Linked DNA regions of Homo sapiens: regions 1, 2, 3, 4, 5 and 7 are each linked to region 6. Evidence: fine-mapped expression QTL. A gene starts in region 6. Each other region holds a variant in brackets. All regions are shown on one strand. Distances are between the middles of the regions.

The links. PIP is the estimated chance that this variant, and not a neighbour inherited with it, causes the effect.
Region 1: its variant is fine-mapped to the expression of MUC4 in thyroid (GTEx, PIP above 0.99).
Region 2: its variant is fine-mapped to the expression of MUC4 in esophagus mucosa (GTEx, PIP above 0.99).
Region 3: its variant is fine-mapped to the expression of MUC4 in prefrontal cortex (GTEx, PIP 0.96).
Region 4: its variant is fine-mapped to the expression of MUC4 in putamen (GTEx, PIP 0.97).
Region 5: its variant is fine-mapped to the expression of MUC4 in tibial nerve (GTEx, PIP above 0.99). The same link has a PIP of 0.9 or more in cerebral cortex, hypothalamus, kidney cortex, nucleus accumbens and pituitary.
Region 7: its variant is fine-mapped to the expression of MUC4 in cerebellar hemisphere (GTEx, PIP above 0.99). The same link has a PIP of 0.9 or more in anterior cingulate cortex, liver and sun-exposed skin.

Annotation. Positions count from the first base shown.
Region 1 is chr3:196,025,341-196,029,406 of GRCh38, reverse strand. It overlaps LOC124909478 (a long non-coding RNA gene), which reads left to right. Exons shown (of 5, transcript XR_007096234.1): 2 at 2,147-2,270. Among named protein-coding and RNA genes, the nearest start is that of TFRC, 55 kb to the left of the region's middle. The variant T/C (reference allele first, on the strand shown) is at 2,114.
Region 2 is chr3:195,833,351-195,837,416 of GRCh38, reverse strand. LINC01983 (long intergenic non-protein coding RNA 1983) reads left to right here. Exons shown (of 2, transcript NR_134939.1): 2 at 802-962. Among named protein-coding and RNA genes, the nearest start is that of MUC4, 23 kb to the right of the region's middle. RefSeq lists a silencer at 3,213-3,413. The variant A/G (reference allele first, on the strand shown) is at 1,867.
Region 3 is chr3:195,184,916-195,188,981 of GRCh38, reverse strand. All of the region lies in intron 2 of XXYLT1 (xyloside xylosyltransferase 1), which reads left to right. Among named protein-coding and RNA genes, the nearest start is that of XXYLT1-AS2, 39 kb to the right of the region's middle. RefSeq lists enhancers at 807-1,322, 3,545-4,066. The variant A/G (reference allele first, on the strand shown) is at 2,206.
Region 4 is chr3:196,093,455-196,097,520 of GRCh38, reverse strand. No RefSeq gene overlaps it. Among named protein-coding and RNA genes, the nearest start is that of TFRC, 13 kb to the right of the region's middle. RefSeq lists an enhancer at 562-611. The variant G/A (reference allele first, on the strand shown) is at 1,503.
Region 5 is chr3:195,990,288-195,994,350 of GRCh38, reverse strand. No RefSeq gene overlaps it. Among named protein-coding and RNA genes, the nearest start is that of TNK2, 84 kb to the right of the region's middle. RefSeq lists a silencer at 3,860-4,063. The variant C/A (reference allele first, on the strand shown) is at 2,523.
Region 6 is chr3:195,809,456-195,813,521 of GRCh38, reverse strand. It overlaps MUC4 (mucin 4, cell surface associated), which reads left to right and starts at 1,593. Exons shown (of 25, transcript NM_018406.7): 1 at 1,593-1,786. The coding sequence starts at 1,705. RefSeq lists enhancers at 3,333-3,896, 3,897-4,066.
Region 7 is chr3:195,975,930-195,979,995 of GRCh38, reverse strand. It overlaps the pseudogene SDHAP1. Among named protein-coding and RNA genes, the nearest start is that of TNK2, 69 kb to the right of the region's middle. The variant G/A (reference allele first, on the strand shown) is at 2,131.

The sequences.
Region 1 (4,066 bases), 220 kb before region 6:
ATTTGAAGTTTTTCTACTTTCTTTCTTTCTTTTTTTTTTTTTTGAGACAGCGTCTCAATCTGTTGCCCAGGATGGAGTGCAGTGGTACAATCTTGGCTCACTGCAACCTCTGCCTCCTAGGTTCAAGAGATTCTCATGTCTCGGCCTCCCGAGTAGCTGGGATTAGAGGCGTGTGCCACCCCGCCCTGCTAATTTTTGTATTTTTATTTATGTATTTATTTAGGAGACAGAGTCTTGCTCTGTCACCCAGGCTGGAGTGCAATGGCACAATCTCAGCTCACTGCAACCTCTGCCTCCTGGGTTCAAGCGATTCTCCCACCTCAGCCCCCCGACTAGCTGGGACTACAGGCACCCGCCACCACGCCCAGCTAATTTTTGTATTTTTAGTAGAGACAGGGTTTCACCATATTGACCAGGCTGGTCGCTGGTCTTGAACTCCTGACCTTGTGATCCGCCCACCTCAGCCTCCCAAAGTGCTGGGATTACAGGCGTGAGCCACCGTGCCTGGCCTGTAATCTTTAAAGCTCAATAGAAATGTAAGATCTTGCTATTGTTATGCGATTATAAAATCTTCCATTCCTTGCTTTTTCCTTGGTTGCTGGCCTAGAAACTAAATCAATTCTGTTCTCTTTTTATTTTTTAAAAGTAATCTCGAACATGTGAAATTGCTGATATTTTAATGTATTGCTGATGTTTCATCTATTCCAATGGTAGCTTCCTCTGGTTTCTTCTAATAGTTAAAACTCTATCATGCCTATAATCCCAGCACTTTGGGAGGTCAAGGCGGGCAGATCACCTGAGGTCAGAAGTTTGAGACCAGCCTGGCCAACATGGCAAAACCCTGTCTCCACTTAAAAGATGAAAATTGGCAGGAGAATCGCTTGAACCCGGGAGACCTTGGTTGCAGTGAACCAAGATTACACCACTGTACTCCAGTCTGGGCAACAAAGCGAGACTCAGAAAAAAAAAAAAATATATATATATATATATATATATATATGTATGTATATATACACACACATATCAAAGCAATATATTTGTATAGTGAAACCTCAGACAGTGCCACTAAGTGAATGATAATATAAAACTCTTATTTCTTATTTTGCTATGATGTTAGGTTCTCAACAATCATTCCGCCTGCTGGTTTACCTTGGTCTTTTTTCCCATTGAGATGGGTTTCCCTTCAATGTCTGGTGATTCTTCATTGTTCACATTTAATAGTGACACGTGAAGAAGGAGAATGAGTCTGTGTTATCATTAGTGAAAGGCTCGTCTAGATGGTGATTCTTCACTGTTCACATTTAATAGTGACACGTGAAGAAGGAGAATGAGTCTGTGTTATCATTAGTGAAAGGCTTGTCTAGATGGTGATTCTTCATTGTTCACATTTAATAGTAACACATGAAGGAGAATGAGTCTGTGTTATCATTAGTGAAAGGCTCGTCTAGGTGGTGATTCTTCACTGTTCACATTTAATAGTAACACATGAAGGAGAATGAGTCTGTGTTATCATTAGTGAAAGGCTCGTCTAGATGGTGATTCTTCACTGTTCACATTTAATAGTGACACGTGAAGAAGGAGAATGAGTCTGTGTTATCATTAGTGAAAGGCTCGTCTAGATGGTGATTCTTCACTGTTCACATTTAATAGTGACACGTGAAGAAGGAGAATGAGTCTGTGTTATCATTAGTGAAAGGCTCGTCTAGGTGGTGATTCTTCACTGTTCACATTTAATAGTAACACATGAAGGAGAATGAGTGTGTTATCATTAGTGAAAGGCTCGTCTAGGTGGTGATTCTTCACTGTTCACATTTAATAGTAACACGTGAAGGAGAATGAGTGTGTTATCATTAGTGAAAGGCTCGTCTAGAGGTTTTGCTTCGGGGAGTCGATGGGGTTTCCGCATGTTAGTAAGTGATGCCTTTGGTCTGGATGGTTTCCTTCCTCTGGAGAAAACCTTCTCCTCTCCTCTCTGGAAGGCAGCTGCTTGCTTGTTGGTTGTTGGTGTTCTACTCACTGGTTACCCGAGGGGTGGGGTGCTGGCATCGGTGAGGGAGGATAATGAGGGTTGACTGTCAATGTACAGATTTTAATCGACCCTCCTGTTTTCTGA[T/C]GCCTGCCTCACTTCTCTGCCCCTCACCCCCAGGAAGGTCCACAGATGATGCTCCTTCTCACGGATGCGAGGCCATCAAATCACTTTTTGTCTCCGCTGCTCTCTCTCCATCGTGGATAGCCACCATGGTTTCTCAGGAGGGAAAGGACACAACTGGGTCAGTATTTCGTCTACCATCTTTAACTTGGAAGCTTCTTCTTCCAACTAAAGCTAGAATAGCAAAGCTTGAGAAAGGGTTTTGAAAATATTTAGTAACTCAAGTTTTTGGGATGATTTGAACATCTTAAGGCACTAAGTTACTGGGTTTTCTGAAAATGGTGATGGGGAATCATTAATTAATTAATTAATCTCTGCTTTGTTTTAAATATATTGCACCAGGTTTGTGTGTTAGAATTCACACTCAAAAAGTACAGGTTTAATTTTGATATATTTTCTTTGAAGAAATAGCTTAACTGCTCTTCAATGCTATACTTAGGATGTGGCCAAATCTTTATTTGAGACAAAATGTATTATTTCTCTCTATGTAAATTAAGATGTTGTACTTTGAAAAATCATTCCTTTGGGAATTTTTAGATCTTTCTCAGTTTTCTTGAACCTTTTGTGTAAGAGCAATGACCTTATATTTGTCACATTGTTCCTATTAAACACTTAGCTGTGGGCACGAAAGAAACGGGCAGTTCTGTTACAAGAATAAGGTGGAGAAGGTAGTATCACTCTTACTCTTTCATGGATGGGCAAACAGGTTCAGGAATTTCCCAGAACCAAGGTTTTCTATCTTATAATTGGGTGTTCTTTGTCTCACAACATGCGCTTCGTCCTTCCGTATGAATCTCTTTGCTCAGGCTGACTCTGAATGTCAGCTCTCACATGCTAAGCACACATTAATTTCTCTTATCCTTTATTCCCACCTAGTGTGCGGGTGGTTTTGAGAGGATCCTGTACGGTATGGTCCTCAGGTGCTTGGCAAAATGGGTCCACCCCCTCCCGGGTAACCCTGGCTCTAGGCCCTCTTCCATGTCCTGGCCTTCCCCAGCAGTCCCCTGGAGCCCTCTGGCGACCAAAACTCCACAGTGAAGCGCCGCCTGGAGTGGTGGCCGGTGAAGGGTTCCCAGTTCGGGACACGTTATTCCTCTTCTGTAAAAACTGCACCACTTTCAGCTAGACTCTCAGGCAAAGGCACAGAAAATTACCTGATTAGATTCATGATCTTTTAGAGGTTTCCTATCGCTGAGGTCATCTGAGCCAGCAGTTTTCAAAATGAGTTGACAGCTTCATATCCTAAAATGTTGCATTTAAATTCCAGTTAAAAATAGTTTAACTACTGTATTTTTCCATTCTAAGACAGATTTTTTTCATGCTTTGCTTTTTCTGGAGTTAGCATGCATCTTATAATTGATACACTTCATTTAATATGATGGGATCTCTTCTGTTCTTCTAAAAAATTATCAATACATTTGTGATGAATATTGGTTTAATAGCATCTCAGAATGTAAAACATCCAGGTTGCAATCATTACCTCTTCTACAATATTTAGGTGAAGAAGGTCATATTTCTTTCTTTTTTAAGTCAAATTATATCTAGCAGAAACTCCCATATATCAAGATGTGGAAGATTCCAATTCACGGAGGTTCCTCGTCATATTCTGTGCCAGACACTGGAGGCCGGTATGGTGGGACTTCATGCTCCGCACCTTCCTGTCTCACTACTTTTCCTGTGACTGCCAATTGCTGGCCCTTTACTCTGAAGGGGGTTAGAGGACGACTGCCTCTGGCATTGGGGAGGGGATACTCCTCACAGCACAAGAAGTGGCAAGAAAGCAGCTGACAAATGCTGGAACCTTGGCCACACCAACCACATCTGGGGAATTGCATGTGACTAGGGCCAAGCCCATTAGGAATGCTCCTTTTCTGGGAACATCTCTCCAGTATCTTCGTTTTGATTTCCCATTGGCTA
Region 2 (4,066 bases), 24 kb before region 6:
TGCTAGATCTGGCTTTGTCTTCCTTTCCAAGGCTCTCCTCACCCCTCCCTCCCAGATCATCCCTGACCCTGCAGATCTTGGCCACTCTATAAACTGGAGCAATTCTGGTTTCCCCACACCTCACCCCAAAACTCAGCCCAGGTCCATGCCTCTGTGTCTAAATCCCTTGAGGACATCTGCTCCTTTATTAGTTCAGGGCACCCACAGTTTATGTTTTTGTGTTTAATCCCTGTAACCTGTTCCTTTTGTCCCTGTGTTGCTGGTGTGGTATTTCTGTTGCACAGAAAGGCCTCCCCGGCTGACATCAGGGTGGAGCAGGCCCTCAGTGCCTAGGCAGCATCAGTGACATGGATCGAGAAAGGATGTACCTGAAAAGCCGGTCAAAGGAGAACAAGAAGGGGGCATCCTGGGAGGCTGCTCCCAGGAAAAAGCCTGGTGGGAGGGCAGGGGCCTTGGACACGGGGACCCAGCTCCCCACCTCCCCACCTCAGAGAGGCCTGGGAAATCATTCCTGGCAGTAGCCTGGCCTTGCCCGTCGGACAGTATTAGGGAGGGTGAGGGAAAACACTTCGTGGTCAGGTCAGTTTGGAAAACTTCCTGTAAGGTGGTGTTTGTTTCAGAGCTTTGATGAGGCCGATGCACAGTGCGAATTTCCAGAAGCGGGTGAGCGCAGCCTTCTGCAAGCTTCATTATCCACGGTGTCTTTTTTTTTTTTCTTTTTTTGGAAAGCTGTTCATGCAAGAATGCTCTGTTTTGGGAAATGCAGTCTCACACCCTCCTCTCCCCTAATCCTGTTTCTAGGCTCGTCAAGCTTTCCAATTTGAGTCTTCAGCTATCCAGAAGCTGTGAAGGGGCAGCCCCGTCACCAGACACAATCCTTGCAAAGGGACAGCCTCCATCAGCCTCCATGGAAGACTGACAGACCCACACAGGGGAGAATAAATCAACCTGCAAATGAAGCATTCAGCCAGCTTGGGAGTTCTGCTTTCCATTTTAAATTAATACACCGGCCTTCTGGTTTGTACATCGGTTGTCCTCCCGTGGGTCTGGCTGGTAGGCATTGGTTTCTGAGGGGCTGGCTGTGTCTGGGGCAAGGTGGAGACCTCAATCCTGGGCTGCCGGGATGGGCCAAAGTGACCTTCGATGGAGCATCTCCCAACCCTAGAATTACAGGGATTTATGAAATGTGGACCTTTCCTGAATGTTAAATTTGCTGAGGGCCAAAGGGGTCAACCATCTCAGCAATGGGCAGGGGCCAGAGGTGCACGAGGGAGGAGAGAAGTGAGGAGAAGAAGAGCGATGGATCGGGGTACAGGCGATCAGGCACGGGCAGGCAGGACAGGGGCCTGATGCGGGAGGGCGGTGGTGGGGACGGTGTAGGGAACAGGAGGTGGGAGGAAGCAGGCTGCCATGCAAGCTCACCCCAGGAGAACCAACCGGGAGGAGGGGGTTCCCTGTCCGGGAGGGCTGAGAGATGGCCGAGGCTCTGCTGCAGCCCTGGTGGAGGCCATCCCTGGGAGAGCCTCCGTCTGAGCTCTGGCTCTTGGGGAGGAAGGGCCAGCTGCCAGTGAGGGCCCTGCTGGGCTTCTGGGTGGCGGCAGGAAAGCTCTGGGAACCCGGGACTCAGAGCCTCCTGGGCCTTATCTTCCTGTTTGGACGTTACTTTCAATGGCCACTGCTCTGGTCCTGCTGGCCCGTCCTGGGTGTGAAAGGAGAAAGAGGCTCCTTGTGGGCCTGTGGAGAAGGGTGAGACCCCTTTCTAGAGGACCTCCTCGGCCTCCACTTCTGCCAGGACATCCATGACGGCCGATTCCATTTCCCCTGCCTGGCGCACCTGAGCTCACGGCTGCCCATTCTTCTGCTAGT[A/G]GACGGAGCTGGGACAGGCCTGCCACTCCCTGCACCCCCCTAACCCCCACACGTCCTGGCCCTGTCCCTGGATGCCGTCAGGGCCTGTTCCCCACTCAGTTCTCAGAGCAACCCGGAATGAAACTGTATTTGAAACATCCCCTTACTTCCTTGTTCCTCTTGGCACCCGATCACCTCGGTCCCAGCCCCAAAACTCTCATTGTGCCAGCATCCTCTGGAATCAGAGACCCACCCATGCGGAATCAGAGACCCACCCATGCGGAATCAGAGACCCACCCAGGCAGACTCAGAGTCCGACAGTGTCAGAGCTGAACTGGGTAGTGACCAACTAGCTCAACCTCATTTCACAGACGAGGAAACTGAGTCGCAGGGTGGGGAGGAGCCAGCAAAGGCGGCACGGCAGTGAGACCATCCCCATTTGGGGACCTCCGTGACCTCCCCGAACTGAACAGCACCCATGACAGAGGGCTCCTCTATCCAAATCCAAAGGCCAAGTCCTCCAGTCTCCAAGTGGTCGACGACAGCAGGGGCCATGCTGCCCCATGACCTCTGTGTGTGCCAGGACCACCCAGCCTCCTTGGCTGCCCAGTGGCGAGTCCAGCTCAACCTCCTCCCGGGGCCCCAGCACCCCCGGCACATTTTCTGACTTTACATAGGTCATCGGGTAAATGGTGTCACCTGCATGAGCCTCAGTGTATCCATCTGGGAAAGGGGAAGAACCTCCCAGCAGGCTCTTCTCACAGTGGTATTGCAAAGCGAAAATGAGATTCGGATGCAGACACACGTGGGGAGGGAGCCTGTGAGGCCTCTGCTAAGGCGAAAACCCATAACACACACGACTGGCTCTGCTCAGGCCATCGGCTCTGGGGCCGCCTCGTCCCATGTGGGCTCTGGCTTTGCTGACACCGTTCCCTCATCTGGAGGCTCTTCCTCTGACCCTCAGTGGACCCACTTGACAGATGGTCTGATGTGCCTTCTTCCTTTAAGGAAGACATGGTGTCCTTCTGGTTTTGGAATCAGACCGAGCTGGGTTCAAATCCTGTCTGCTGAATGGTTTTGGTCGCAATGGCTTCTGCTTTCTTAGAAAAAGTCCCAGATTCAGCCGGGTGAGGTGGCTCACACCTGTAATCCCAGCACTTTGGGAGGTCGAGGCAGGTGGATCATGAGGTCAGGAGTTCAAGACCAGCCTGGCCAACATGGCGAAACCCTGTCTCTACTAAAAACACAAAAAATTAGCTGGGTGTGGTGGCATGTGCCTGTAATCCCAGCTATTCGGAAGGCTGAGACAGAGAATTGCTTGAACCCAGGAGGTGGAGGCTGCAGTGAGCTGAGATCGCACCACTGCATTCCAGCCTAGGCCACAGAGCAAGACTCCGTCTCAAAAAAAAAAAAAAAAAAAGGGAAAGTCCCAGATCCTTCAGATGGCCAATAACACCCTTGAAATGTCGTCATCCGGCCATTTGCCTCGGCACCACTTGGGGAAACAGGTCCCAGGGAAGACTCACAGACTGAGGCTCCAGGGAGGGCATGGCCGGCCCCAGAGCCTGCACTGAAATCAGCTTCCTCAGGACATTCTGATGCTCACAGAGCTCGGAAACCCAAAGAACCTGCCTCCTGCCCCGCTGTGTAAGCCCACCTCACTCATCCCGCTCCCTCTGCCCCAATCCCCCCGTGTAAGCCCAGCTCACTCATCCCACTCCTGCTGCCCCAATCCCCCCGTGTAAGCCCAGCTCACTCATCCCACTCCCTCTGCCCAATCCCCCGCTGTGTAAGCCCAGCTCAGTCATCCCACTCCCTCTGCCCCAATCCCCCCCGTGTAAGCCCACCACACTCATCCCGCTCCCTCTGCTCCAATCTCCCCCTGTGTAAGCCCACCTCACTCATCCTGCTCCCTCTGCTCCAATCCCCCTCTGTGTAAGCCCAGCTCACTCATCCCACTCCCTCTGCCCCAATCCCCCGCTGTGTAAGCCCAGCTCAGTCATCCCGCTCCCTCTGCCCTAATCCCCCGCTGTGTAAGCCCACCTCACTCATCCCGCTCCCTCTGCTCCAATCCCCCTGGACTTCTTTCAGATCCTAGGATGGGCAAAGTGTCTCTCTACCTCAGGGCCTTAGCACAGGCCATCCTCGGCCCACAGCAGTGGTGCCAGCCTCTGCCTGGCTAACCTCACCCTCCTCCACTGGCCCCTGGTCAGGCATCCCT
Region 3 (4,066 bases), 620 kb after region 6:
AGGCTCAAAGAAATCTAGTGACTCAAGATCACACACCTGGTGAAAGCTAGCGCCGAGCTTAAACCCATAGCCATCGGATGTTACTGTATGAGGCTGCACCTCCTGGTTCTGCATCTCTGTCATGTTGTCACAAAATTTTTGTGTAAGTGCTTAATGTTTACACAAAGTTGGCTGTGGAGGGAAATGGAGCAGTGGTGTGGAAATTGGAAGAAATGTTGCCATTCAACCTTGAGAGTCTCTGATTCTGAGATACCACCCAGTGGACAGATATGGGAGCTAGCAGTTATGATGCAGGACAAGCAAGCCCCAAAATTGAGGCTTAGCCCAAGAGGGTTCTTGGCTCCTCATAGGAGACAATTCGAGAGTGCACCAGTGTGTTAAGCAGCGACTTTGATTGAAATGGCCAGTACACAGCAGCAGCAGAGGTACTGCTCCTTGAGGAGTACCTAGAGCACTCAGCATGCCTAGAGTATCAGCTCAGCAGCAATTCTGCACTCATATTTATACCATTTTAATTATATGCAAATTAAGGGTCAGTTTATGCAGAAATTTCTAGGATGAGGGTGGTAACTTCTGGTTGTCAGGTTGTTGCCATGGCAATGCTAAACTGACATGGCACATTAGTGGGTGTGTCTTATGGAAAGCTGTTCCCACTCCAGACCTGTTTTAGCCAGTCCTCAATTTGGTCCCGTGTTTGAGCCCTACCTCTGGGCAGCACAGAGGATTGTTTCAGCCTCACTCCCTGGATTTTCTTCTCCAAGGAGTAAAGAGCAAATCCTATATTTGTGGTTAGCTGGTTAGAGACTGTTTCTATTAACTATTCTTTTGGGAGCTAAACTAATTTAATTCCATCCCCTAGACTTTTTTCCTGTTCAGGAGTGGTGTCTCTGGGATGAGTCCTTCTCCAGAGTCAGATGTTTACTCTCACATCTAAATATAGAGCCAAGCAAGCTCGTTGAGACGTTAGTTGAACTCATGTCTTTGGATGGATTTCATATCACAGTGGCTTTCTTTTGTAGAGACTTTGTGAGAGAGGAGGGATTTACTTTTTTAAAAAAAAGGTTGGGGGTAAAAGGTTGAAAATAAACAAGGACACCTCTTTGAAGTGTTTAGGAAGAAAGGGAGGTTTTAAATATTTCCTGGAAATCATCTAATTTACAAATGCACAACTTTGTTAATCATGTCCAGGCATGTCCTCAGCCCCGGGTCTTTCCATAATATTAAGAGCATGTTCGGTGGAATGCAGCCTGAATCATTCACTTCTAGCTGCAAATGAAAAAAGTTTCAATCAACTGGGACTCTACCTCAATGTGCATGCAAAGCAATTAAAATCAAAGAAGCTTAAAGGAATAATGTCCAGGGGTGGAATCCCATTTCTTTCCCCTTCTGTATGTTTCAGCTCTTCAGTCGCTCCAGTAAACACTAGGACAAGTTATTAGGAAGAGATTGCCTGTCTGATTGATTGACTGTATTCTTAGGGCTCCTCATAGCACTATACAGATAAATTGGAATTTTCAGAAAAAAAATTGAATGAATATTAATAATAACAGTGGAGGCTGGTATCAAGAGAAGGGACACAGAAGAGACAGTTGGGAGGAGTGAGAAGCAAAGCTTCAGCTGGCCGGGCATGGTGGCTCACGCCTTTAATCCCAGCACTTTGGGAGGCCAAGGCGGGTGGATCACGAGGTCAGGAGTTCGAGACAAATATGGTGAAACCCCGTCTCTATCTTTTTTTTTTTTTTTTGAGATGGAGTCTTGCTCTGCGGCCCAGGCTGGAGTGCAGTGGTGGGATCTCTGCTCACTGCAAGCTCCGTCTCCCGGGTTCAAGTCATTCTCCTGCCTCAGCCTCCCGAGTAGCTGGGACTACAGGCGCCCGCCACCACGCCTGGCTAATTCCCGTCTCTATTAAAAATATAAAAATTAGCTGGGCACGGTGGTGGGCACCTGTAATCCCAGCTATTCAGGAGGCTGAGGCAGGAGAATCACTTGAACCCAGGAGGTGGAGGTTGCGGTGAGCCGAGATCGCGCCACTGCACTCTAGCCTGGGTGACAGAGCAAGAGTCTGTTTCAAAAAAAAAAAAAAAACTTCAGCCAGTGTTGTGGGTTAGAGGGCCCAGGTCCGTGGAGAGGTTATCACCAGCACTTCACTCACTCAGCAAAGATTTATTCAGTTTCACCTGTGAGCCAGATCTTGCCTAGGTGCTA[A/G]GGACATGGGGGTTAGAAAAACAGATGGGGTCGGTCTCTGTCCTCATGGAATGTACAGTGAAGATAGACATTAAGCAGATAATGGGAACAGCTGCAATAAGGGCAACGAAGGGGAAGTCCAGGTGCTGCCCGAGTGGGGGATTCAGGGTGTGTGGGGGGGGATTGTTACTAAAGACTTCCTCCAGACAGTGACATTTAAGGTGAGACAAGTGGGTGGGACTTAGCCAGGCCAAGACACGGAGGAAGAAGAGTGAGGCCGAGAGCATATTGAGTGGAAAAGCTTTGTGGGTGGAAGGAGCTTGATGTGCCCCAGAAGCTGAAGCCTTAGCTGCCTGGAGCACACCCCGGTCAGGCTATTCAGGGCCTTGAAAGCTGTGCGAGGGATTGGGGACTTTATCCTGGGGACAGTGGGATTTGCAACCACTGGTGGCATTTTAACCAATGGAGTAATATGGTTTGCATTTTCATCCAGTGACTTAAGTACTTTTGCATGCGTTCTTCTGTGGGATGGACCTGAAAGAATGGTCTGGACTTGAGGATCCCTGGAGAGCACAGTGAAGCTCAACGAAGAGTTCCAGTTGTTGGGTTGTGGTGAGGGAACCAGCAATGGAAGGTTTTGAAGAGGGGAATGACATGTCTGGGAGCAGCTCTGTGGTGGCTTTCAAAAGTTCTGGGGAAACTTGATCATGTAGCAGAAGGCAGCTGAGGAGGCGGTCCAGGCACTTAGGAGCACAGTGGCCTGGACTTCTTAGGTGAGAGGGGAGGTTGAGAGCTCGTGGTAGGTGTTGCAGGGACCCTAGAGCCAGAAAGCTGTGGACTGGTCTTCAGAGCTTGAGGGCCAAGGGAGCAGGAAGCCTTCACAGGAAAAGAAAGGTCTGAGTGAAAGTGACTGAAGAGAGGTGGGAAAGGGAAGGGAGAGGCCTCTGGTCTTGTTGTGCAAGGAGAGGGAGTGTCCAGGTATGTAGATGGGGTGTGAGCCTCTTTTAGAGAAGTAAGGGTTGGGCTCACTTGCAAGCACTCAGGAAGGACCGGAAGGAAGAAAGTGAAGATGCCGTCCCCATTGTGTCCCTCAGCGCCCAGAGGGTGTGTCGACCTGCTCCTCAGGCCAGGCCAGCCCAACACCTGTGACTAACATGACCTCAGAGTCTAAAATAATGTGTGCCACAGCTCTGAAGTCAGAAGGCTGATTTTTATAAATCAGCACAAATTGACCTTATTACCCATGGTCCTTCAGTGACCTCAGAAATCAAAGTGAAAAAAAAAAAAAAAAAAACCCAGCCCTAAACCTCTCTGGACCAAAGTTTTGCTCCTGAAGCAGGACCCCAAAATACTAGTGGCCTATTTTCTGCTGAAGTCTCTCTGTCCTCATGGTTCTGGAGAATGTCCTTTCAGTATCTTTATTCCTCCCCCATTTCACTGCAGATGTGCTCCAAGTTTCATGTTCCAGCAATCAGATGACCACGATGGAATATTCCCTGAGCTGGTGTTTCCAGTCTTTAGTCTAAGTTCTAAGACACTGAGCATTCCAAAACCCCTACTGTTCTGTTTCCCAGAACAGACCTTTCTTCCCTATTCTCCAGCACCCTCTGTTCCTTCCCCTTTCCTTTCCTTTTCTTTTTCTTTTTTCCTTCCTTCCTTCCTTCCTTCCTTCCTTCCTTCCTTCCTTCCTTCCTTCCTTCCTTCCTTCCTTCTTCCTTCTTTCCTTCCTTTTTTCTTTAATGGGAGTGAGGTCATTTGTGGAGCTGTCACTGCTCTGCAAGAGGGCAGGCATGAGGGGTGCCAGGCCCTCCTGACTTCTACCTTCTGATTTGTATGGTTTGTAAAATGAGCTGTATAAATGCCCAACATTTGATCAAACGAA
Region 4 (4,066 bases), 280 kb before region 6:
AAGCATTAAAACCAAATCCAAGGACATCCTGTTTTGGAACATTAAAGTGCTGTTGTCACAGAAAGGAAGGCAGTCCTTCCTCTCTAAATTTATAATGTCAATCATTCCTTTGAGAGTTTTCGCTGGCCCTATATATTTTGCACCTGTTCCCAATAATCCAGATGGTACTGTGGGGGCCAAAGTCCTTGGCTCCCTGAAGTTTCACTAAAAAATCAATTCACAGCTTGGCGCGGTGGCTCATCTCTGTAATCCCAGCACTTTGGGAGGCCGAGGCGGGTGGATCACTCGAAGTCAGGAGTTTGAGACCAGCCTGACCAAAACGGTGAAACCCCATCTCTACTAAAATTACAAAAATTAGTTGGGCGTGGTGGTGCACGCCTGTAATCCCAGCTACTCCAGAGGCTGAGGCAGGAGAATCACTTGAACCCAGGAGGCAGAGGTTGCAGTGAGCCACGATCATGCCACTGCACTCCAGCCTGGGCAACAAGAGCAAAACTCCGTCTCAAAAAAAAGGAGAAAAGAAAACTCCTGTTCTTCTCTAGCCCAGGCCCAGTCTGCAGGAGAGGTTTCAGAGCAGGGTTCGTGTGGACTGGCTGTTGAGCTGCGTCTTCCCAGGGGTTCAGGGGAGTCCACGACAGCTGTAGACTGTTCTTCCGGCTCACAGTTTCACAAACTCAGTTTCGTCAGTTCACCAGAGTCATCAGGTAATTCGCTACCCAAGGGCACAAAATCCCGATTCATGAGGCCTATTTATTAATTCGTGTGGGGTAAGAGAACTGCTGTGCAGGCCAAGTCTTCCTGCTGAGGTCTGGTGTCTTCTCAGGAGGGAAAATTGTTTCAAGATCAGGATTAGTGGATTGTTTGGCAGTTGTGCAGTGGCTGCAAAGTAGCTGAATGGTCTTAGGGACCGTTGCTGAAGCTGGGACAGCCCCAGGGATCGCCCTGGTCCACTGAAAAGCTTAGAATGCAAAAAATAGAATGCATTACAGCTACCTAAAAATAGCTGCCAAGCAGAAACCGCTTTCATGCCAGCTGGCCACACAGGGTGCCCTTTCTGTGGGGAGTGTTGTAGAAACAGCTAATAAAAACTTCTTCCTCTAAAGTCTACTCAAGGGTTGGTCTAAGACCAGCAGCAGCCTGGGTATCAGTTAGGAGCTTGTTAGAAACACCGTCTTGGACCCCCACCAGACCTTCTGAATCAGAATCTGCATTTTAACACGTCCCCTCCATGGGACTTATCTGCACATTAAAGTTTCTTTAAAAAAATATTTTCAAGGGCTGGGTATGGTGGCTCACACCTGTAATCCCAGCACTTTGGGAGGTTGAGGTAGGTGGATCACTTGAGGTAAGGAGTTAGAGATCAGCCTGGCCAACATGGTGAAACCCCTTCTCTACAAAAAATACAAAAATTAGCCGGGCGTGGTGGTGGGTGCCTGTAGTCCCAGCTACTCAGGAGGCTGAGGCAGGAGAATCACTGGAACCCGGGAGGTGGAGGTTGCAGT[G/A]AGCTGAGATTGCGCCACTGCACTCCAGCCTGGGCAACAAGAGTGAAACTTCGTCTCTTTCTCTCTCAAAAATAAATAAATAAATAATAAATGAAAATAAATAATATATGTATATGAATATATATATTTTTAAGAAACAAGGTCTCACTCTGTAGTCAAGGCTTAGCTGCAGTGGCACAATCATAGCTCAGAGTAGCCTTGGACTCCTGGGCTCAAGCAATCCTCCTGCCTTGGCCTCCAAAGTGCTGGGATTATAGATGTGACACTGCATGGAGCTCACATGAATGTTTAAGAAGCACTAGGCTAGGCTGGGTGTGGTGGCTCATGCCTGTAATCCTAGCACTTTGGGAGGCTGAGGTGATCATGAGGTCAGAAGTTCGAGACCAGCCTGTCCAACATGGTGAAACCCCGTCTCTACTAAAAATGCAAAAATTAGCCGGGTGTGGAGGCATGTGCCTGTAATCCCAGCTACTCGGGAGGCTGGGGCAGGAGAATTGCGTGAACCCAGGAGGCGGAGGTTGCACTGAGCAGAGATCACGCCACTGCACTCCAGCCTGGGAGACAGGGCAAGACTCCGTCTCAAAAAAAAAAAAAAAAAAAGAAGCGCTAGGCTAGAGTCTAGCCTCTATCTGGATCTCAAAACCAATCTAACCTTTATTCATCTTACTACCTGCAGGAAAACCTGCCTGTACCTTAATAAAGCCAAGGCTAGAGCCAGGCATGCTGGCTCTCACCTGTAATCCCAGCACTTTGGGAGGCCGAGGAGGCTGGAAGATCCTTTGAGCTTAGGAGTTCAAGAATAGCCTGGGCAATATAGTGAGACTTTGTCTCTACAAAAAAAAATTAAAAATTAGCCCAGCGTGGTGGCTCACGCTTGTAATCCCAGCACTTTGGGAGGCCAAGGCTGGAGGATCCCTTGATCTCAGGGGTTCAAAAATAGCCGGGGCAACACAGTGAGACTCCATCTCTACAAAAAAAAATTAAAATTTGACAGGTGTGATGGCACATGCCTGTAGTTCCAGCTACTTGGGAGGCTGAGGCAGGAGGATCGCTTGAGGTTACAGTGAGCTATGGTCATGTCACTGCATTCTGGCCTGTACAGCAGAGCTGTCTCAAAAAATACATAAATAAAATAAAGTCAAGGCTGGATTTCAGACCTTGACACAGAAGTGGTCTGCCTGGAATAGGGGGTTGGAGGGGACCTGGCTAGCAGGATTGGCTCACGGGCCCAGAACTGTCTCTCCCTTTGGAATTCTCTGCTCTCATTGCCTACTTGGGCTCGACCTTATCAGAGAAGCCTGCCCCCCTTCGTAGCATGTTGCTCAGGCTGGCCTCTGACTCCTGGGCTCAAATGATCCTCCTGCCTCAGCACCTCCAAGTAGCTGAGAGTATAAACATGTGCCAGGGTGCCCAGCTATGTTACTTCTGGGAAGCATTCTGGAAGATAGTTGTACCAGGCACACTGTACCTTATAACCTTGTCTTTATATATGGGGATCTTTTGCTTTGTGCTCCTGGCATCAAATTCAGCTATAAAGTTGACTCAAACCTTCCAAGGATGGGTATTGTTGTAAGGTCCTGGTCAGAGCCTGGCAGTACGTCAGCCTACCCTGAGTGCAGAGCTTCAACTACCCGCCTGCTACAACAGTGTTTTCATATTTCCATACCTGAGATATAGTAAAAAGTGGTTTTAATACAGAAACCTGGCCAGGCATGGTGGCTCACACCTGTAATCCCAGTACTTTGGGAGGCTAAGGAGGGAGGATTGCTTGAGCCCAGGAGTTTGAGACCAGCCTGGACAACATGGTGAGATCCCCATTGCTATATCTCTTAACATTTATTTAAAAAAAAAAAAAAAAAACAGAAATCACAGAGATCTGAAGTTAGGGTCTTGCTATTTAAAAGCTGTGCCACTTTCAGCCAATCCTTTTATATTCTTCACACTTCTACTTATTCATCTATAAAATAGGTATGATACCTGTTTCACAGAATTGTTGGGGGCCAAAGTAAGATGATACAAATATAAGTTCCCAGCTCAGTACCTGGACACCATAGGTGCTCAGCGAACGTTACCGCACTCTGACACCTGGGCACCCCAGCCCTGGGATACGGGTCTTCCTACCACTTAGGGGATTGTGTGAGATGAACCAAGGGAAGCCACTCCAGCTCTCACAAATGTAACCACTGTACAGCTGCCTCCTTGACCACATTTCCATGTATAAGAAATACAAGTTTTGGCAGGAACATTTTCCAAACCAAAGGAAAATTTGTCTACTGTGTATATTAAAGCTGAAGAAACCAAAAAGTTTCTGCCTATTTGGTATTTTTCCTGAATACTAGATTTGCTGACTTGGGATTTAGATGTAGACGTCTGTTTGCAAATGTTTTCTTCACACATTTGTTCATTTTTCCTATTTACATCATCAGTCATCCCCACTTCACAATGTTCTTTTCAAAGGCCTCTTTCTTAGTCATTTTTTTTAGGCAATGTTTGGCCATCTGGCGCACAGTTTATCAGAAGTATTATTGCTTAAGGTCCCAGCCATAGAGGAAGGGAAACTCAGA
Region 5 (4,063 bases), 180 kb before region 6:
CGCCTGCAGTTATCCGGAGGCCTAACCGTCTCCCTGTGATGCTGTGCTTCAGTGGTCACGCTCCTAGTCCGCCTTCATGTTTCATCCTGTACACCTGGCTCTGCCTTCTAGATAGCAGTAGTAAATTAGTAAAAATACTAATAGTCCCTGATATGCGGAAATAATGGCATAAGCTGTCTTTCTCTCTGTCTCCTCTCCCTCTCTGCCTCGGCTGCCAGGCAGGGAAGGGCCCCCTGTCCAGTGGACACGTGACCCACGTGACCTTACCTATCATTGGAGGTGACTCACATTCTTTACCCTGCCCCTTCTGCCTTGTATCCAATAAATAACAGCGCAGCCAGACATTCGGGGCACTACTGTTCTCCGTGCATTGGTGGTAGTGGTCCCCCGGGCCCAGCTGCCCTTTCTCTTATCTCTTTGTCTTGTGTCTTTATTTCTACACTCTCTCATCGCCGCACACAGGGAGAGACCCACCGACCCTGTGGGGCTGGTCCCTGCAGGGTTATAGGCATGAGCCACCATGCCCGGCCTGCTTTTTTCTTTTTCAAAAGGACTCTTTCTAGATTATACCTATTCATTCCGGTGACTATATATGGGGCAAAGATGGGTTTGAATCCACCAGGATAAACGTGCCGGATCTCCTCTCTGATGGAAGAAGAGACAGGGATAGAAGGGTACAGAGAATCAGAGCCAAGAGGAGGCCGAGTCAGGCGGGGGTTGCAGGCTGCTGTGAGGACTTGGCTGCTTCTCTGAGTCTGGTGGGATTAGCAGGGGATTTAAACAGAGGAACCGTGGGATCTCCCTTATGCATTTCTGCCATGGTTGGCTCAGCTGAACACACCTCTTGAGCAAGACTTGGTCTTGGACACCCAGAGGCCCTTGGTTGAGGGTTTACCTCCTGGTGTGGCCACTGACACATCCACGTTTGGCTCCCACACGGCTGGGCAGCCCCGAGACCTGCTGTGCCTGCACTTCTCATTGGTGGCATTTCTCAAGTTTGTCCCCTCTCAAGTCTGCCCCATCCGGAATACCAAACACCTCTCTCTCCTACATGGAAACCCCCGTCAGCACCTCCTCCTGACTCACAGGGCATCCCGTCAACATCACAGTCCCAACCTTCCCACATGGAGAAGCTCATGGGACCCCCGATGGACCAGGACAGTGCCAGCACTAAGACGTGCCCTGGAACTCACAGGAAGAGCGGACCAAGAAGCCAGGAACAGCACGGGGCACTGGGAGCTGCAAACGCCCACGATACTGTGAGAGACGGAGAAAGGTATGACAGGAGGAGCAGACCAAGAAGACGGGAACAGCACGGCGCACTGGGAGCTGCAAATGCCCACGATACCGTGAGAGATGGAGAAAGGTATGGCCATGGCGGTCACAAAATGTTACACAACATTTATTAAAGGCCTAAATGGAGAACCTAACGCTATCAAACCCTTAGGTAAAAACACAGGGGAAAATTCGTATGGCCTGGGGTTAGGCGAAAAGTTCTTAGACATGACACCAAAAGCATGATTCATAAGATTGACAAATTAAATGTAGTCATAAATTTAAAATTATAATTCTATAAAGCAATATAAAAATCCAAAGAGAATGAAACACAAACTATGGTCTAGAAATAAACATTTGTGAATCACACGTCTCACAACCTACTGGCACGCAGGATATATGAAGAACCATCAAAACTTAACCATAAGAAAGTAAAAACCCCAGTATTAAAGAGAGGGCCAATATTGGAATGGAGGCCTCATGAAAGAAGGTATAAGGAGGGCATATTGCCCGAGAAAGAGGCTCAACATCATAGAGATGCTGGAGAAATGCCAGTCAGCAGTACCTCTGCAAATCCATTAAAATGGCTAAAAACAGACAAAACCCATGGGCCAACCCAGGTTCTAGTGATGATGCAGAGGAACTGGGACCCTCATAAGCTGCAGTGGGAATGGGAGGGGTCCCGCCATGCTGGAAAGTGGTCCGGGAGTTTCTTAAGAAGTTAAGCACATCCTTACCATGTCATCCAGCAACCCCACTGCTGAAATGTCCCCCAAGGGAAAACTTAAACGTGCACACACAAACCTGCACACAAGTGTTTAGGCCTCATTCCTCATTGCCAATAACTGGAAGAAAACAAAATGTCCATCGGCAGGAGCAGGAGAAGGCGTGAACCAACGCGGATGCTTCCACATAGGGGACACCAACCAGCAGTGGAAAGATGCACCCAAATGCCCCAGGTCTCCCAGGCTACATGCCCGGTGAAGGAAGCTAGTTTCGGTGGCCACAGGCCGAAGGATGCCAACACATGACATCTTGGAGAAGACAGTGTACCGTGTCGGGGAGCAGGGCAGTGGTTTCGAGGGGCTACGGGTGGAGGGGCGAATGGAGGAGCTCTCTGGGGCGATGGCGTGAGCACCTGCACCTCACTGTGGGCTGCTGCGGCTGAGGGGCTGTACGGCAAACAGTGGCTTCAGTACATGCAGACTGAAGGAGGAAGGCTCCCACAACTCAGAGACAGAGGGTGT[C/A]GCCTCCATGAAACAAAAACATATTTAAAAAAAAAACCTCTTAAAATTAAGAAAAAAACCACAAAAAGTATTTCATAAGCGCATTGACTTTGAGTTGACATAATCTACCTGGGAGCATGGAACTGAAACCACAGGCTTGGCAATCCCGGAGGGAGAGGGTGGAGGGTTTAGACCTCAATTGAAGGGCTCAGTACCTGGCTATAGGAAATAACATTTAAAAAGCAGCAGGTGGAAATAATTTCTGCTGATGAGGTTGCATCTCTCCAGATAGCCGGCAGAGTAAATTAAAGCAATATAGTCTTGCTCTGTTGCCCAGGCTGGAGTGAAGTGGCGCCATCTCCGCTCACTGTAAGCTCCGCGGGAGAATCTCTTGAACCCTGGAGGCAGACGTTGCGGTGAGCCGAGATCCCGCCATTCCACTCCAGCCTGGGCAACAAGAGCGAAACTCCGTCTCAAACCAAACAAAATTAGGTAACTAACCCAGGACTAAAACAGCATAACTTTAAAAAAATAAGTCTAGGAGGTATGATGTTCATTCCCTGCAAGCCAATAAAGGCCACGTCTGGGGCATACATCTAAAAAAAATAATCCTAAAGAGAAAGTTATGGTCACAAATATGTTCTGTACGGTGTTATTAAGAGCAAAAATAGGAAACAACCCAAATATCAATAAAATGGGACCGAACCCTTGCAAATTTACTAAAATAACTCAAAATTGTTAAACATGATGCACAAGACGAAGATTTTAATAAAGTGAAAAGGCAGGAAACATAATTACTAATGATTATTGGTTTATTTTTCATGCCACTTCATTCCACAAAAAGATTTCAGGTATCTTACAAAAAGACACACTAGAAATATTAAAATACTATCTGAACCAGAAGCAGAATCAGGGTAAGCTAGCAGAAAGGCGTATGAGCCAAAGGGATCTACCCAGCTTTCAAAGCTGACCACGGCCGTGCGCAGTGGCTCTGTCTGTAATCCCCGCACTTCGGGAGACCGAGGAGGGAGGATCGCTTGAGGCCACAAGTTCGAGACCAGCCTGGGCAACAGAGCAAGATTCCCGCCTCTACCAAAAATTTAAAAATCAGCCGGAAGCCAGAGGCTAGGGACATGGCTGAGGATCGCTCCCGCCCCTCGGAGGCCAGAAACCGAGGGTCACTCCCGCTCCCTAGAGGCCGGAGGCCCCGGGCCGCTCCCGCCCACCTCCGCGGACGAGCGCCGCCCCTTCGACCCCATTCCCTGAGGTCTGGACGTTCAGGCCCTCTCGGTCTGGGAGATCCCGGAGAACCACCCACGGGGCTTTAAAAAAAGTTGGTGCCCAACATCTCCCCGAAATAGGGCCCGCCCTATCTCGGTCGGGGAGCGCGGGACCTCCGTGGCCACCCAGCGCCACGGTCCGCGGGTCCGCTTTGCGCAGGCGCGGCGTCCCCGCCCATTAGACCCCGGCCCGGGCGTCGCGTGGTGCGCAGGCGCAATGTCCCCCACTAGCGCCCCGCCTTGACCCGGCCGTGGTGCGCAGGCGCAGTCTGCGCAGGGACT
Region 6 (4,066 bases):
AAATGATCACGAAGGCCAAGCTGGGCCTTGGTGTCTGCGAATTCCCTGCAGTAGGTCCCTCCTGCTGCCCCGTCCAGGCGCCCACAGGATGCTCCACATGACTCTTTACCTTTATGATTTTCTTACCTCCAGGAAAGAACAGGGTCAGCTCGTCCACCCAGAGCTGGAGGGACTGTTGGGGGACCACGCCACTTCCCCACGGTATCCGCATTATTATGGCGTGGCCCAGGCTTTGGCCTGGGGCCATGAACAGACTTTCAGCTTCTAGAAGCAAGTGGTCACAGGGCCTCCGTGACCCTCGGAGACAGCGCCACAGCGTCGGTTGCCTACTCCTTGCTGGACAAGGCTGGCTCTGCTTGGGAATGCAGAAACCCTGAGTCCTTGTCCTGGGCCCCACAGTGTCTGAGCATCGAAGGTCCCTGCTCTGGGACGAGTCACCCCACAGACACCCCACATTCGGGAATCAAGTCTTGAGGAATCAGAAGCAGAGATTCACACTGTGGCAAAGAGGGGAGCGGAGGTATCCCCGTTTTCCTTTGCAGAGAGCTACACCAACTGCCCTCTTCGTCTTTACAACCCTACTTGGGGTCCCTTTCCCTCCTCGCTTGTGCCTGTGAGTTCCAAGAGGTGGAACTGGGGTGAGCAGAGCCCCCAGGTCTCCAGGAGCAGCTCCACCTCCTCACAGGTTACAGTCGCTTCCTCCTACCGAGGTTCTGCCTTCAACCCACTGCCCATGCCAGCTCCCTCAGGCCAGTCTCCCAGACTGTCCCTGGCTCCCTGCACCCTGGCTCCAGCTCCCTGCCCTGGAAAGAAGAAGTCCACCATCTGGTGAGGGTCTGCCACGCATCTGGGGTCTGCCATGCGTCTGCACTGAGGTTCTGCCACGAGTCTGCACTGAGGTTCTGCCATGCGTCTGGAGTCTGCCACGCGTCTGGGGTCTGCCACGCGTCTGGAGTCTGCCATGGGTCTGGGGTCTGCCATGTGTCTGGGATCTGCCGTGCGTCTGGGGTCTGCCACGCATCTGCACTGAGGTTCTGCCACGCGTCTGGGGTCTGCCACGCGTCTGGGGTCTGCCACGCGTCTGGGGTCTGCCACGCGCCTGCACTGAGCAGATATTCCAAGCACACCACCCCTTTCCAAAAGACGGCATACAGTGCATTTCTGTTCCTGCCCCTCACCCACATGGTTCCCCGCTTCCCAATTCCTTGGGGTCTGCTTAAGTCTCACTCTCTTTCCCCCATTCATACAGCCCCAAGGTCGCTCCCTCTGGGGCCCTTTCTTCCCCATTCTTCCCAGCAGCCCAAAGCTCTGGTGGGACAGGGGCAGCCCCTGGGGAGGGAGGAGAGGACCCAGGAACCCGGCTAGGAGGGTGGCCCACCCATTTCCAGTGTGACCTGTTCCCATTCCCCCATGTCTCCTCCCATCCCTCCCGCCACTCAGCTCAGGCTGATGAGAAGCAGAGCAACGGGTGTATCGGTGTTTTCTTTCCTGGTGGGGTAGTGGGGTGGGGCTGAGGAGAGAAAAGGGTGATTAGCGTGGGGCCCCGCCCTCTTTTGTCCTCTTCCCAGGTTCCCTGGCCCCTTCGGAGAAACGCACTTGGTTCGGGCCAGCCGCCTGAGGGGACGGGCTCACGTCTGCTCCTCACACTGCAGCTGCTGGGCCGTGGAGCTTCCCCAGGGAGCCAGGGGGACTTTTGCCGCAGCCATGAAGGGGGCACGCTGGAGGAGGGTCCCCTGGGTGTCCCTGAGCTGCCTGTGTCTCTGCCTCCTTCCGCATGTGGTCCCAGGTAAGTGATGGAGACAGCAGATGAGGCTGGCTGCGGGGAGCACTTGGGGGAGGTGGGAGCTGTCAGAGAAAGAGGTCCGGGGAGACAGAGAGAGAGAGAGAGAGAATAGGGGAAAGGGAGACAGCGAAGAGGAAGAGAAGGGAGAGAAAAAGAGGGAGAGGGAAAGGAGAAAGAGATGAATGGGACAACATGGGGGGAAGGTGGAGAGAGACCCAGAGAGGGAAAGAAGAGGAAGAGAAGAGGGAGAGAGAAAGAAGAGTGGAGGCCGTGCGCGGTGGCTCATGCCTGTAATCCCAGCACTTTCGGAGGCCAAGGCAGGAGATCACCTGAGGTCAGGAGTTCGAGACCAGCCTGGCCGACATGGTGAAACCCCGTCTCTACTAAATATACAAAAATTAGCCGGTCGTGGTGGGCCCCACCTGTAATTCCAGCTACTCAGGAGTCTGAGGCAGGAGAATCACTTGAACCTGGGAGGTGGAGGTTGCAGTGAGCCAAGATCGCGCCACTGCACTCCAGCCTGGGAGAGAGAGCGAGACTCTGTCTCAAAATAAATAAATAAATAAATAAATAAATAAATAAATAAATAAATATAAAATAAAATAAAAAATAAGAAGAGGAGAAAAGTGGGGAAGAGGAGGCATGAACTGGCAGATACGGGACAAGATCTGAGGGGAAAGACAGAGGGAGAATGCTCGAAAGAGAGAGAAAAGAGAACAGAGGGCCAGAGAGCAGCCCGGCGATGTCTGGAAGGATCCATGGTGAGAGCCCAGGCTTACTCGCAGAGAGAAAGACAGGCAGAGCCAGAGCAAGAGGAACAGAGTCAAGGAGAAAGATGTACACCCTTGTGTACAGAGCTGGGGGTAGAGGGGATGCCAGGAAAGCTGGGTGATGGAGACGGAAGAAAACTCATGTAAAGCTGCAGGGTGAGAGGACGAGACAGGTGAGACGCAGACAAACTGAGGACCCTGGGAATGGAGAGAGGAGAAGATCGGGAGACAGCAGCAAGCAAGGGAAGCGACAAGGAGGAGAGGGGCAGGCCGGCCGGGAGGGTGGTGCGGAGGAGGCGGCCAGGGCGCAGAGGGCCGGGAGGTGCTGGCCGTGGGCTTCTTACCTCTGAGCTCGGGTTTAAAAGCCTCCATTTGGGTCACGGCCTTGCCTGGGGCTCGTAGCCCCGGCATTGGCCTTGGGCTCCTCCGTGTACAGAGCTGGGAGGGGAGGGATGCCAGGCCTGTGGGAGATGTTCCCTCGGGGGCCCCCGTCCTCTTCCCCACACTTTCCAGGCTGTCCCTCTGGCTTCAGGACCAAGTTTTATTCTGTGTTTCTGGGTGTCTGAGTCTTTGGGGGAGAGTCTGGGGTCCAGAGTTCAAGCTGGGGTTAGAGTCTCAGCTCCTGCCCTGCCTCTCAGCAGGCTAAGAACAGTCGCCGAGGGAAAATATTTCTTGGGCGCATATTTGAGGAGCTTCCTGGGAGTGAGTCAGAAGGCGAGTGCCGTTTAAAGGCTGCAAGAGAAGCCATGCTGGTGAAGCGGACCCTTCCACCTCGGGATGTTTCAGGACTAGGCTGAGGGCAAAGGAAACTGCCACCACCTCCCTACACCTCCCCACCCTCCAGCACCCCCACCCCACCCTGGCCACACAACCCCGCTCCAGTGCTCATCCCACCGTGAGGACGTGGAGGCCGGAAGGAGCCGCCACACGGCCCTGCCCTGCAGATGTGGTTGAAGGAGTCTCCACGGGAATCATGACTCCCAGAGCGAGGCTGGGGCTTGGGGCGCCGGGGAGGCAGCTTGGATTTAGGAGCCCCAGGGCCAAGTCTTTGCCGTGAACTGTTCTGGCCCCTGTGACCAGGCCCTGCCCCGTGTCTCCCCAGGGCCCCGGTCCCCTGTGTAAAAAGCAGTGGTGAACGGTTGGACCTCCTGACGCCCAAGTTCTTGAGTTTCCAAATCTGTGATTTAAAGCTGAGCCCAAATGTGCTGGGTACCAGCTGGACACTCAGCTCCATGTGGAGCCAGGAAGTGGGGTCTGTGGAGAGGAGCGCAGAGGGGCAAGACCTGGGGTGGGCGTGGAAAAGCACGGGGGCGTGACCCGGAGAAGGAGTGAAGGACTGTTGGTGTGCAAGGGCGTCTCCATGACGACCCGAAGAAGCTAGGCATGTCGTGGAGCGCTGAGTCCTTTGCGTCGCTAAGGGGACCAAGTGGAGCTGGGCCAGGAGAGGAGATGGTCGTGGCTGGGAGATGGCACCCACACATCTGACCGGGCATGACCAGGGCCTTGGCAGGAA
Region 7 (4,066 bases), 170 kb before region 6:
GGGGTTGTGTGCACACAGCACTGAGAAGATGGTGCCCGGGGGCTGCCCTGTCCGTTCTGTGATCTCATTAGACAGGAGGTCCGGACGTGGGCCACTGTGTGCAGTCACTGCTCTCTGTTGTTTCCATAGGCTACTGGCGCAACTACTTGAGCTGCACGTCTGCCCACACCAGCACCAGCGACGGCACGGCCATGATCACCAGGGCAGGCCTTCCTTGCCAGGACCTCGAGTTTGTTCAGTTCCACCCCACAGGTAGGGCAGGACGCCTTGCCCGGAAAGCGTTCGGCTCGTGTGTCTTGTAAGCGTGTGGTGCCTACTCATTGCTCTTCCATAGTTTTATGTAATAACATGGTTTTGAAGATCAGCTTCCTTAGCTCTCAGGTCCTAACTTCAATGTCATTTCCTTAAGGAGACTTTTCCCACACTCCCCTTCCTCTAAGGCAGTTTGGGCCACCATCTTATGCATTTCTCAAGAGCCCTAAACCCTGCCTTGGTGATACTTATGCCAGCAGTAAAGCAGGGATTGAGGCCGGGCATGGTGGCTCACGCCTGTAATCCCAGCACTTTGGGAGGCCAAGGCAGGTGGATCACCTGAGGTCAGGAGTTCAAGACCAGCCTGCGCAACATGGTGAAACCTCATCTCTACTAAACATAAAAAAATCAGCTGGGCATGGTGGCATGCACCTGTGATCCCAGCTACTTGGGAGGCTGAGGCGGGAGGAATGCTTGAACCTGGGAGGCAGAGGTTGCAGTGAGCCGAGATCGCACCACTGCGCTCCAGCCTGGGCAACAGAGTAAGACTTCGTCTGAAAAAAAAAAAAAAAAAAAAGTAAAGCAGGAATTGTTCAGTGTCCCTCTTTGCAGTGAGGTCGTCAGCAATTCGGGCAGGCAGGTCTTCTCATTAACTGGGGTGCTCCACGCCCAGCACATGGTAGGGTCTCCATCGGGGTTTACTGAGTGAGCATTCTGAGAGCTGGGTGAATGCTGTGGAACCAAGAAGCAGCACAGGCAGATTTCAGCTTTGTAGGACAACACAGAGCTTCCGTGACAATGGGATGTAAAGTTAAGACACAGCCATGAGAGAACCCCATGTGACGTTGGGCGCTGGGCTCAGCCCCCGTGACCACTGAGGGAGCTTGTCGTGGGGAAGATGAGCTTGTCTTGGGGACGTCTGACGGTTGAGGTTACGAATGTGCAATTTGGAGACATTAACTCAGAAATGACAGTTGAAGTCTTGAGTTTGGAGGAGGTTCTTCAAAATGAGTCAGAGACAGACACACACACGTCTGCCTCTTGTTTGAGGTGACTCGTCCTGGACTTTTCTGGGTTGCTTTTCTGACCTGTGGACGATGGAGACCCCTGAAGTGGTGCCAAAGAACCAGACCTGTGTCTTTTCTTTCTCTGTCAGTGTCAGCTTTCTGATCCCTGGAAGGGATGAAAATAAGAAATGGATTTGTTGTAGGTTTTTTTTTTTAATTTGTTTAGAGATGGGGTCTTGCTCTGTTGCCCAGGCTGGAGTGCAGTGGAGCAATCTCGACTCACTGCAGCCTTTGTCTCCCAGGCTCAAACGATCCTTCCACCTCAGCCTCCCAAATAGCTGGGACTACAGGCATGTGTTAGCATGCCCAGCTAATTTTTGAGGGTTTTTTTGTTTTTGGTAGAGACAGGGTGTCACCATTTTAAGCCCAGGCTGGTCTCAAACGCCAGGGCTTAGGCGATCCTCCTGCCTCGGCCCCTCAGGGTGCTGGCATTATAGCCATGAGCCACTGCACCCGGCCTGTTGTATTTTTTATTACTGTTTTTAATCAGTAAAATGTCAGTGAGCCCCTGAATTCCCTCTGTAATTTGCTTAGAGCTCCACTTCTCATGCTTTGTCTTCAATATGTGAGAAGTAACCACAGAAAAGAGAGCATGGAAACTTAGAAAATCAAAAGGCAGGTGAGATGCAAGAATCACATTCTTGTTTTGAAAGCAAGATTGCCCTTTTTGTATACTAATAAAAATTGTAGCTTTTGAAATACATTTAGTTTAGGGTTTTTGATCTCCTTTGTTAAAATTCGAGAGCTTGGCACGCCCTGTTTCTCATCGCACTGAGGAGTCACAGAGCCGCTGTTTGGGGCACAGACCGCC[G/A]GACTGCCCAGGTTTGGGTTTGAGCTCTGTCCTCAGCTGCATGACTGGATGTTACCAAGCGTTAATTTGCTTGTCACTGAGAAAGGGGGTCGTACTACCCAGAGTTGTTGTAAGACTTAAATGAGTTTAATATGTGGAAAGCAGCTAGAACTGCCCATAGCAAGTGCAGTGTAAAGATGAACTAAAATAATCATTATTACTGTCCTTGCCACTGTTTGGGTAACTTAGATATGAATTCTCCAAGCTAGTATTCTTAACTAGTCACCACAGTATCGTAGCGCAAAAGAATGTTCAAAAATTAAAACAAAATTTGAGGCATCCAACGTACACCGGGCTGTAATCAGAGTATTGGCCAGAGGTCTGTGGGCCGGCCTTTCTCCTCTCTGGGGACGCCACTCTGCCCCAGCCTCTGCTGCAGCTGTCAGCCTTGTCAGTGCTTTTTGTTATCCAGACTTTCTACTGTATCTTAACTGTTCTTTCTGTTCAGTTTTGCATATAATGCCTTCTGCATATCTTTTTTGTCTCTCCCCCAAAAAATATCTTGTAAAAAAAAGTAATGCATTTGAAATAGAGACCCAGCAATTGTTAGGTTATAAATGTGTGGTTTTTTGCAGGCACATATGGTGCTGGTTGTCTCATTACGGAAGGATGTCGTGGAGAGGGAGGCATTCTCATTAACAGTCAAGGCGAAAGGTTTATGGAGCGATACGCCCCCATCGCGAAGGACCTGGCGTCTAGAGATGTGGTGTCTCGGTGGATGACTCTGGAGATCCGCGAAGGAAGGTGCGTGTGGTTTACCACCAGCACTGTCTGAGCGGGCACACGGGCCGGGGTTGCTTCTGTGAGTTTCAGCACCACTCGCCCTCACCTTCGTGTGCAGGCACATGTGCACAGCCACCTCTCTCAGCTGCCGGCAGGCATCTGTTAGTCTGCGATATTTTCCTAAAGACCTACATTTTGAAAATTTTAGCCAGTTTCTTTCTCAAATCTGTGGAACAGAGTTTCTCTTAGTGTGTGTGAGTATGTGACGGAGTATGGAAGAGAGAGACACGCACCCAACCTGAAGTCGGCGTGTGAGCCTTGGGTGTGGTGTCTGATACCCACAGATGTTTTTCGACAGCTTTCAAAGTGTGTGGGTCATTTGCCTTTCAGAAGAACAGTTTGCAGCTCTTTCATTGCCTGACCCTGTTCTTTAATGTGATAACACTTGCTAAATATCTGCTGGTATCTGGTGTGGCCTTTAGAGGTTTTACATTTTTATATTAAAAAAAAAAGAAGTCGGATGGTTTTTTGGAATATGGTGGCCCTCCGTATCCATCGGTTCCACATGTGTGGTTTCAACCAACTATGTACTGAAAATAAAATTGCATCCTTACAAACACGCAGACTTTTTTTTTTCCTTGTCATTGTTCGCTAAGCAACACAGTGTAGCAGCTATTTACCTGCATTTACATTGTATTAGGTACTATGAGTAATCCTGGAGTTGCTGTACAACTTAAATGTAAAACTTGAAATGAGGATGATTTAAAATATGGAGGAGGATGTGCATAGGTTATATGCAAATACTCTGCCATTTTATATTAGGGACTTGAGCATCCACGGATTTTGGTGTCCGTGGGGGTCCTGGACCCAACCTGCCACGGATACGCAGGGACGACTATTTGGCATAGAGGCCTAATGCTTTTACCAAGGACAGCCGCTGCAGGCTGTGATCCCTGAGACGAGTGTGAGTTCAGTAAGGGCAGAGTATTTGTTCTGGTTCTCAGCTGTGTCCCAGCACCTAGGATTGTCCCTGGCACACAGTAGATGCTTAGAAAAGATTTGATGGGAGGGTGGCCGTACATGAGGGGAAATTTTCCTCAGTATCAAAACATGTTGCAACTCACACGCTTCCAAGATGACGTATTCTCAGGTCTGCTGCCGTTGCCATTCTCTG